2 linked regions of the Homo sapiens genome follow. The protein of the gene in region 1 interacts with the protein of each later gene in a pairwise test. Each region holds a gene or a part of one and is shown on either strand. Other genes may lie near its edges.

Evidence for each region.
Region 2: the proteins of BEND7 (region 1) and VCX2 interact in a two-hybrid assay, tested with the Homo sapiens proteins (one large-scale study listed by BioGRID).

The regions. Positions count from the first base shown.
Region 1 is NC_000010.11:13,501,417-13,505,235, reverse strand, and holds part of BEND7 (BEN domain-containing protein 7), read left to right. Parts: intron 1-1,642; exon of another isoform or gene 1,643-2,375; intron 2,376-3,819.
Region 2 is NC_000023.11:8,169,231-8,172,763, reverse strand, and holds VCX2 (variable charge X-linked protein 2), read left to right. Parts: upstream 1-1,496; 5' UTR 1,497-1,657; intron 1,658-1,974; 5' UTR 1,975-2,120; coding exon 2,121-2,222; intron 2,223-2,414; coding exon 2,415-2,732; 3' UTR 2,733-2,820; downstream 2,821-3,533.

The sequences.
Region 1 (3,819 bases):
TATAAAGCTGATGTCTGGATCGACCACACTGAGGAACCGGGAGTGCAGCGAATAGAACTGGAAACTGTCAAGGGTGACAGAGCCTTGCTTCTGGAATGAAAAACTCCCACTTATATTTAAAATGGATGCCAAGGCAACACAAAATGATGAGCATTCGCTGCACTCTCTCTCAGTTTGTTTGTTACCATCTTTTATCGTGATTACCTGTGAATAATCGTGTTCCACGTAGTGGATCCTTCCCTCCTAGCCAAGTTAAGGGCAACCTTGTGTGTTGACTTCTGTGTTGCCCTCACATGTATCAGATCCTGCAAGACTATGTGTCATAAATTCTTTGCGTAAAGGAACGTGATCTAGTAGAGTCTTGAAATTTAGTGAGGGGGAGAATCCAGCATACAATCTTTTTAGATCTTGTCCAAGGAGTATAGTTACTAAACTCCAAAGGATTTCAGGCTGCCAATAAGGTAGTCACGTGGCATGGATCCATTTTAGTAAGATTCCTTTGTGTTTGTTTTTCTGAAAAGGATTCAGCGTCTTGGAAAGAGATCAGGAAAAATGCACAGGTTTCCTTATAGCATCCTGTCTCGCTAGAGAGCTCGTTGCTCCAAAGAGCTTCCTTTTCCTGGTATCTATACCTGGAGAAGTCATTGACTAATGATAACTGGAAATACCAGTAGAAGTCAGTGAATGCTTCCAATCTCAATCTCCTGTATACTTTTCACCAATTTTTTTTTTTATCAAAGAACTTGGATTCCACTATGATAGAAGAAGCCTGTCTTCCGAAAAGGACTTCTAGAGCCACAAAGTGCTTGGTTAACACCTTGGTGATGGTGAAAATCCTGTGCCCCTCCTGGACTACCATGTGCCCCTCCCCGGGTTAGGGTTCAGACTCTTGCTTTAGGATTTAGGAAACCAGAGAATATTCAGTGGCTTGGCTAGTATCCAGTAGCAGGTGGGCGTAGTTAGGAGGCGAGACCAGGTGTGGGTGTAATAGCCCAGCCTGTCCTGTCCCACACTAACACTGCACCACACTCAACGAGCTTCTACGGCTCGGCCTGCTCATCTGCTCCCAGCACCCACTGTCCCCAGATTATTTAGGTTGACTCAGCTTCTTTGTCATTGTCACTTGGAGTCTTCAGGCCTCGTTTCTGATCCTCTGCCCCACCTGCCCCAAATGTGCAAGGAAACCTCTTTCTTCCTGTCTGCCAAAGCCTGTCACTCATCATTCCCTGCTGTGGAGTAGAGCCCCAGGACTCCCTCCTCCTAGGCAGCAGCTGCAGGGGTGACCTGCTCAGCTGCTTCTGCTGCTTTGGGTGAAGAGAGTGTGACTCAGTAAACCCCAGAGACCATTCCTGAACGTCCCGTCATCTCCCCTAAGAAACTTTCCACACTCTGCCCTTCTTCAACCTTCCCTGCCGACTCTCAGCTCACCTCTCAGCTCTCCTCTCAGCACAGACTTCTGCAGTTACTGCAGTTTTCTGTGTTCCATCCTTTTAGTTGTTGTTTGTTTGTTTGTTTGTTTGTTTTGAGATGGAGTCTCACCCTGTTGCCCAGGCTGGAGTGCAGTGGCACAACCTTGGCTCACTGCAACCTCCGCCTCCCAGGTTCAAGTGATTCTCCTGCCTCAGCCTCCGAGTAGCTGGAACTACAGGCGCGCGCTGCCACGCCCAGCTAACTTTTGTGTTTTTAGTAGAGACAGGCTTTCACCATGTTGGCCAGGCTGGTCTCAAATTCCAGATCTCGGGTGATCCACCCACGTCAGCCTCCCAAAGTGCTGGGATTACAGGTGTGAGCCACTGTGCCATCCTTTAAAGGATGTGTTCCATCCTTTAAAACATGCCACAGTGAGCTAGGCCGTGAGCTTACTTCCTCTGAGGAGGGACCTGCTTCTGGCCTTCTGCCCTCTTCCTTTCAGCACTGTTTCTTCCTCCTCAGTCCCCCGACGTCCTGATTTTTTGTGTATTTGTTTCGTTTTGTTTTGCCTTTGGGAGACATGTTTCTGCACACGGCAGGCGCAGCCCACCGCCAGAACCCCTCACACCTGCCACCTTCCTCCCTCATTGCCACCTGCAGCTTAGGATGCTGGTTGTCAAAATGAAAATACAAAGTTATGCAAAACTCAGGTTGTATTTTCAGCCATGTACTTTTCATAGGCATAAGTTCTGGAACTCTGAAACTGAGGTCATGACAAAGCAGATTTGCCCTCAGAAGGTTCCAGAATCCTTGTGACGCCTTCCTGTTGCTAATGGTAGCACTGTATCTATCCTAGCATTATATCTACAGAGCAGAGGCAGGACCTTTGGCAGGAGACACATCCCTTCTCCTGTGATGTGTCAGTTAGTGTAGAGAAGCAAGCTGGCATGGACTTGAGAGCCGGGGTGGGTATCTGCCCCATGTGGCCTGGCTATGGCTGCTCTGTTCAGGGAGCCTGGGGTCAGGGGTGGCGGCCACCAACCTGTGCCAGAGAAGGCTAGTCTCTGCATGGACTTCAGTGCAGGCATACCCGGCCTGATGGGGAGGGCTGTGGGTGGAAACCACACAGAAAAGATGCCTCCTCTTGCTTGAATTGTGGTGTTAACTAGCCGGGAACGTATGTGTCTGGTTGCTGAAATTAATACCGCATTTGCCTGTGGGCTTATCTTTCAGGATTCCTTTGGGACCTCTTCCAGACACACCCTGTTCCGTAGCCTCTCGAGAAAGTAGTAAATTTTGCTGACTCTGCGTTATTGAAATCTCGCTTGGTCGTTCATTCTCATAAAATCTGGAATATGATTTATTGTTTATATATTGTAATTTTCACAGGGGTTTGAAGTAGAAATAGTTTTATCTCAAATTAGAATATTTCTCCTCTCAAGCATATGCCAACAACACATAGCAATATTGTAAATTTGGAAATCTGTGTTATTTCCGTGTTCACTCATGTTCAATTAGACAGAATTAATATATTCTGTAATGTTTTTAGTATCATTTTTAAAAACTAAAGATATTTACTTCAAAATAGTGAACAGTAAATTCAAAATAAACTTCCTTATTTAGTAACATAACACATATATTAATAAGCTAAATATCTAACTGGAAAGCACAAAACGGCTAGGTTATTGTGCAGTTACCAGTTCTACAGAGAAACCTGGCTTATCCTAAGTGCAATCATTATGTTGATCCATATATATATATACATATCCTTATATATACATATATTGATCATTATAATTGATCCTAAGTGCAATCATTATATTGAATGTGCTGTGTGTATTTGTAGGAGCTGTATTTTTCTTAACAGATGCTGTCTGTTAGCCTTTTCTTTATCTTACAGTTTAAATTTCAAGCATTTATTAGAGTAACTGCATGAATGTTTACACACACATACCCTGGCCTAAGATTTTTTTTTTTTTTGAGACAGGGTCTGCCACTATCACCCAGGCTGAAGTGCAGTGGCACAATCTCGGCTCGCTGCAACCTCTGCCTCCGGGGCTCAAGCAGTCCTTCCACCTCAGCCTCCAAGTAGCTGGGACCACAGGCACACACCACCATGCTGGGCTAACTTTTGTACTTTTTGTAGAGACGGGGTTTCTCCATATTGCCCAGGCTGGTCGCAAACTCCTGAGCTCAAATGACCCTCCCATCTCAGCCTCCCGAAGGGCTGGGATTACACGTGTGAGCCACCATGCCCAACAGTGGCCTAAGATTTTATCTTTTGGGTTTGAGAAAAAAAAATTCATTTCTCTTCATCTTTATGAAGATACTGGCTGATGCACAGTTTAAGAAGATAGTGTGTTTGAAATAGCTCCTAACAGATATCAGCATCCTCTGATATTATTATTG
Region 2 (3,533 bases), on another chromosome or scaffold:
CCTAATCATTCTACTATTTTTTGTTGGAATAATAAATTACCACAGACATCTGGTGGTAAACATGTAATTAGCAACCTAAAGATAGCTAGAATTAGCCAGACCAGGTAATTGATTGCAGGAAGCTGAAGATAACTGGCCTATGCCAGGGAGTTCAATAACCATTTTCCTCAATGCAAAATTCCAACCTCATGTTAGAAATATTACCTAATATAGTAGATATCTACTTTATCCAAGTGAGTAATTAACTAGAGATAACTACATGAAGCCAGTACCTGGAATAAACAAATTCTTCTCAGTACTAGTTGAACAAACAACTAGCAATTACTAGGAAAACTGGTTGAACATAGAAAGTTTAGTAACCATTCGAGTCAATTCTGTATTCTTACTTTTTTAGGATTGTTGACTAGGTACTATGGATTTGGTAACTAGAGTTACCTGAGTAAGAGTTAAATACAGAATCCTCCATAAAACTGGAATAACTGGTTGAAGACAGAAGTATCACATTGCATTCTCCTCAGTATTTCTCATTTCTTGTTGGAATAATAAGTTGGTTCTGTCAATGGGTAGTGAGTACCTAGGTTATTACAAAGCAAGAAATAAGAAGAGATGACTAGAATAAATATTTGATACCAGAATGGTGAAAAAAACATTCTTTTCAAATAGAAACTCTAATTTCCTGTGTAATTAATGAGTTACAATTAGTTAGTACTGGAGATATCTATATGAGATGTGGACTTCATTTTTGGGGGGTGGTACATACTTAACAGATGAACTGCTGGGTCACATGGTAGATCTATTTTGATTTTCCAAGGAACCATTACACTGTTTTTTATAACGGCTGTACCAATTACACGTCTGTCAACAGCGTGTAACAGTGAGGTGATAGTTCATTGTGGTTTTCATTTGCATTCTCTGATTATTAACGATGTTGAGCACATTTTCATATACCTGTTGGCCAGTTGTGTGTTTTCCTTCTAGAAATGCCTATTCAAGTCCTTTGCCTATTTGTTAACCAGACTATTTATTTATTTGCTATTGAGCTGTGTGAGTTCTTTATATATTTTGGATATTAACTCATTATTAGATACATGGTTCGCAAATAGCTTCTCCCAAACCATAGCCTGCCTTTTCATTTTGTTGACTGTTGGCTGTGCAGAAGCTTTTAGTTTCCAGCCTGCTCACTTGCCCTATATATTTCAGCTTCCTAGACCCCCACATTGAGTCAATGTGTGAGCCAATTACTTAGAATAAACTGTATCATATATATAATTCATAAATACTACATGATAGTAAATATATATTTATGATATATAATATTACACACACACACACACACACACAATATCCTGTTGGTTTAGTTTCTCCTTCTCTGAGGAACCCAGCCTGATACCGAAACCCAGCCTGATACCGATACCCAGCTGAGCGAGTGTGTTTGCTGATCTTGACCTCTGGAAGCCAGTGCTTTAAACCATGAGAATGAAAAATTGTGAGGCACTATGTGGATGCTGGGAGAAGTATGTGAGATGGAAAAGTTGTTTCATGGCATCCAAGAAGTGAATGATCCTCAAGGTGTAGCAGAGGAATTTGTAGGAGAGAGGGATGATTGACGTCTTCGTATAGCCCTCCATCCATCCCAGTTAGCATGGAGGGATTTTAGATAGGTCATACAGAAACTGGGTAATGATGGCAGGTGTGGAGGAACAGAATGTACCACTGAATGGGAGGTCCGGGGGAAACATGTGGCGGAAATATCCTCCCGTGCCACGTGATCTGCCAAAATTGAACATGGGGAGTTTAGGAGGGGTGACATGTCAGTTTGGGAACTATCTTTAGGGGTGCTAACCCAAATCTCCCTTTCTCCAATTAGAGCACCCTGCCTTCCTCATTAGATGTCACCCCCCCCCCCCGCCCCCGACTTCATCCGCCATGTCCTGATGGTGCTTTGTGACGTATAAGGCCTTCCTTCCCGCCCAGGGCTACCATTGGCTGGGTAGTGGAGTGTTGACCAATCACAGCTCAGGGGCGTGATTGTCTCGTCCTGGGATCGCGAGAGGGGTATATACAGGGAGGCCAGGCAGCCTGGAGTTAGTCGACCGTTGCGAGACGTTGAGCTGCGGAAGATGAGTCCAAAGCCGAGAGCCTCGGGACCTCCGGCCAAGGCCACGGAGGCAGGAAAGAGGAAGTCCTCCTCTCAGCCGAGCCCCAGTGACCCGAAGAAGAAGGTGAGTGACCCTCCCAAGCTCCTCCTCGTCTTCCCCTCGCCTCCTTCCTCACAAGAAGCCTCTCCTGTCGTCACTTGGCAGAACCCCCCAACCCGGCCCCCACCGCTTCTGAGGACACGTCCCTGTTCCCAGCCTCCTCCATCCTCGTCCCTAAACCAGAGCCCTTCTGTGATCTCCCTGTTGTCCTTCCAGACTACCAAGGTGGCCAAGAAGGGAAAAGCAGTTCGTAGAGGGAGACGCGGGAAGAAAGGGGCTGCGACAAAGATGGCGGCCGTGACGGCACCTGAGGCGGAGAGCGCGCCAGCGGCACCCGGCCCCAGCGACCAGCCCAGCCAGGAGCTCCCTCAGCACGAGCTGCCGCCGGAGGAGCCAGTGAGCGAGGGGACCCAGCACGACCCCCTGAGTCAGGAGAGCGAGGTGGAAGAACCACTGAGTCAGGAGAGCGAGGTGGAAGAACCACTGACTGTGTGGATGGCCAGCTTTTCCCCTGTCTCCGAGAGCACCGACTAAGTTCAGGCCCAGCCGCCAGACCTCAGAGATCTCACCAGCGGGGTGCTTGCCATTCTGAAGATAATAAAATGAATGTGTTGCAAATTGATCTGAGTGACTCCGTGTTCTCTGATGGTGGGGAGGGAGGGAGGGAGGGGGGAAGAGGTGGTGTGTGGTGAGGGAGGGAGGGAGGAAGAGGTGGTGTGTGGGGAGGGAGGGAGGGAGGGAGGAAGAGGTGGTGTGTGGGGAGGGAGGGAGGGAGGAAGAGGTGGTGTGTGGGGAGGGAGGGAGGGAGGAAGAGGTGGTGTGTGGGGAGGGAGGGAGGGAGGGAGGAAGAGGTGGTGTGTGGGGAGGGAGGGAGGGAGGAAGAGGTGGTGTGTGGGGAGGGAGGGAGGAAGAGGTGGTGTGTGGGGAGGGAGGGAGGGAGGAAGAGGTGGTGTGTGGGGAGGGAGGGAGGAAGAGGTGGTGTGTGGGGAGGGAGGGAGGGAGGAAGAGGTGGTGTGTGGGGAGGGAGGGAGGGAGGAAGAGGTGGTGTGTGGGGAGGGAGGGAGGGAGGAAGAGGTGGTGTGTGGGGAGGGAGGGAGGAAGAGGTGGTGTGTGGGGAGGGAGGGAGGGAGGAAGAGGTGGTGTGTGGGGAGGGAGGGAGGGAGGAAGAGGTGGTGTGTGGGGAGGGAGGGAGGGAGGAAGAGGTGGTGTGTGGGGAGGGAGGGAGGGAGGAAGAGGTGGTGTGTGGGGAGGGAGGGAGGGAGGAAGAGGTGGTGTGTGGGGAGGGAGGGAGGGAGGAAGAGGTGGTGTGTGGGGAGGGAGGGAGGGAGGAAGAGG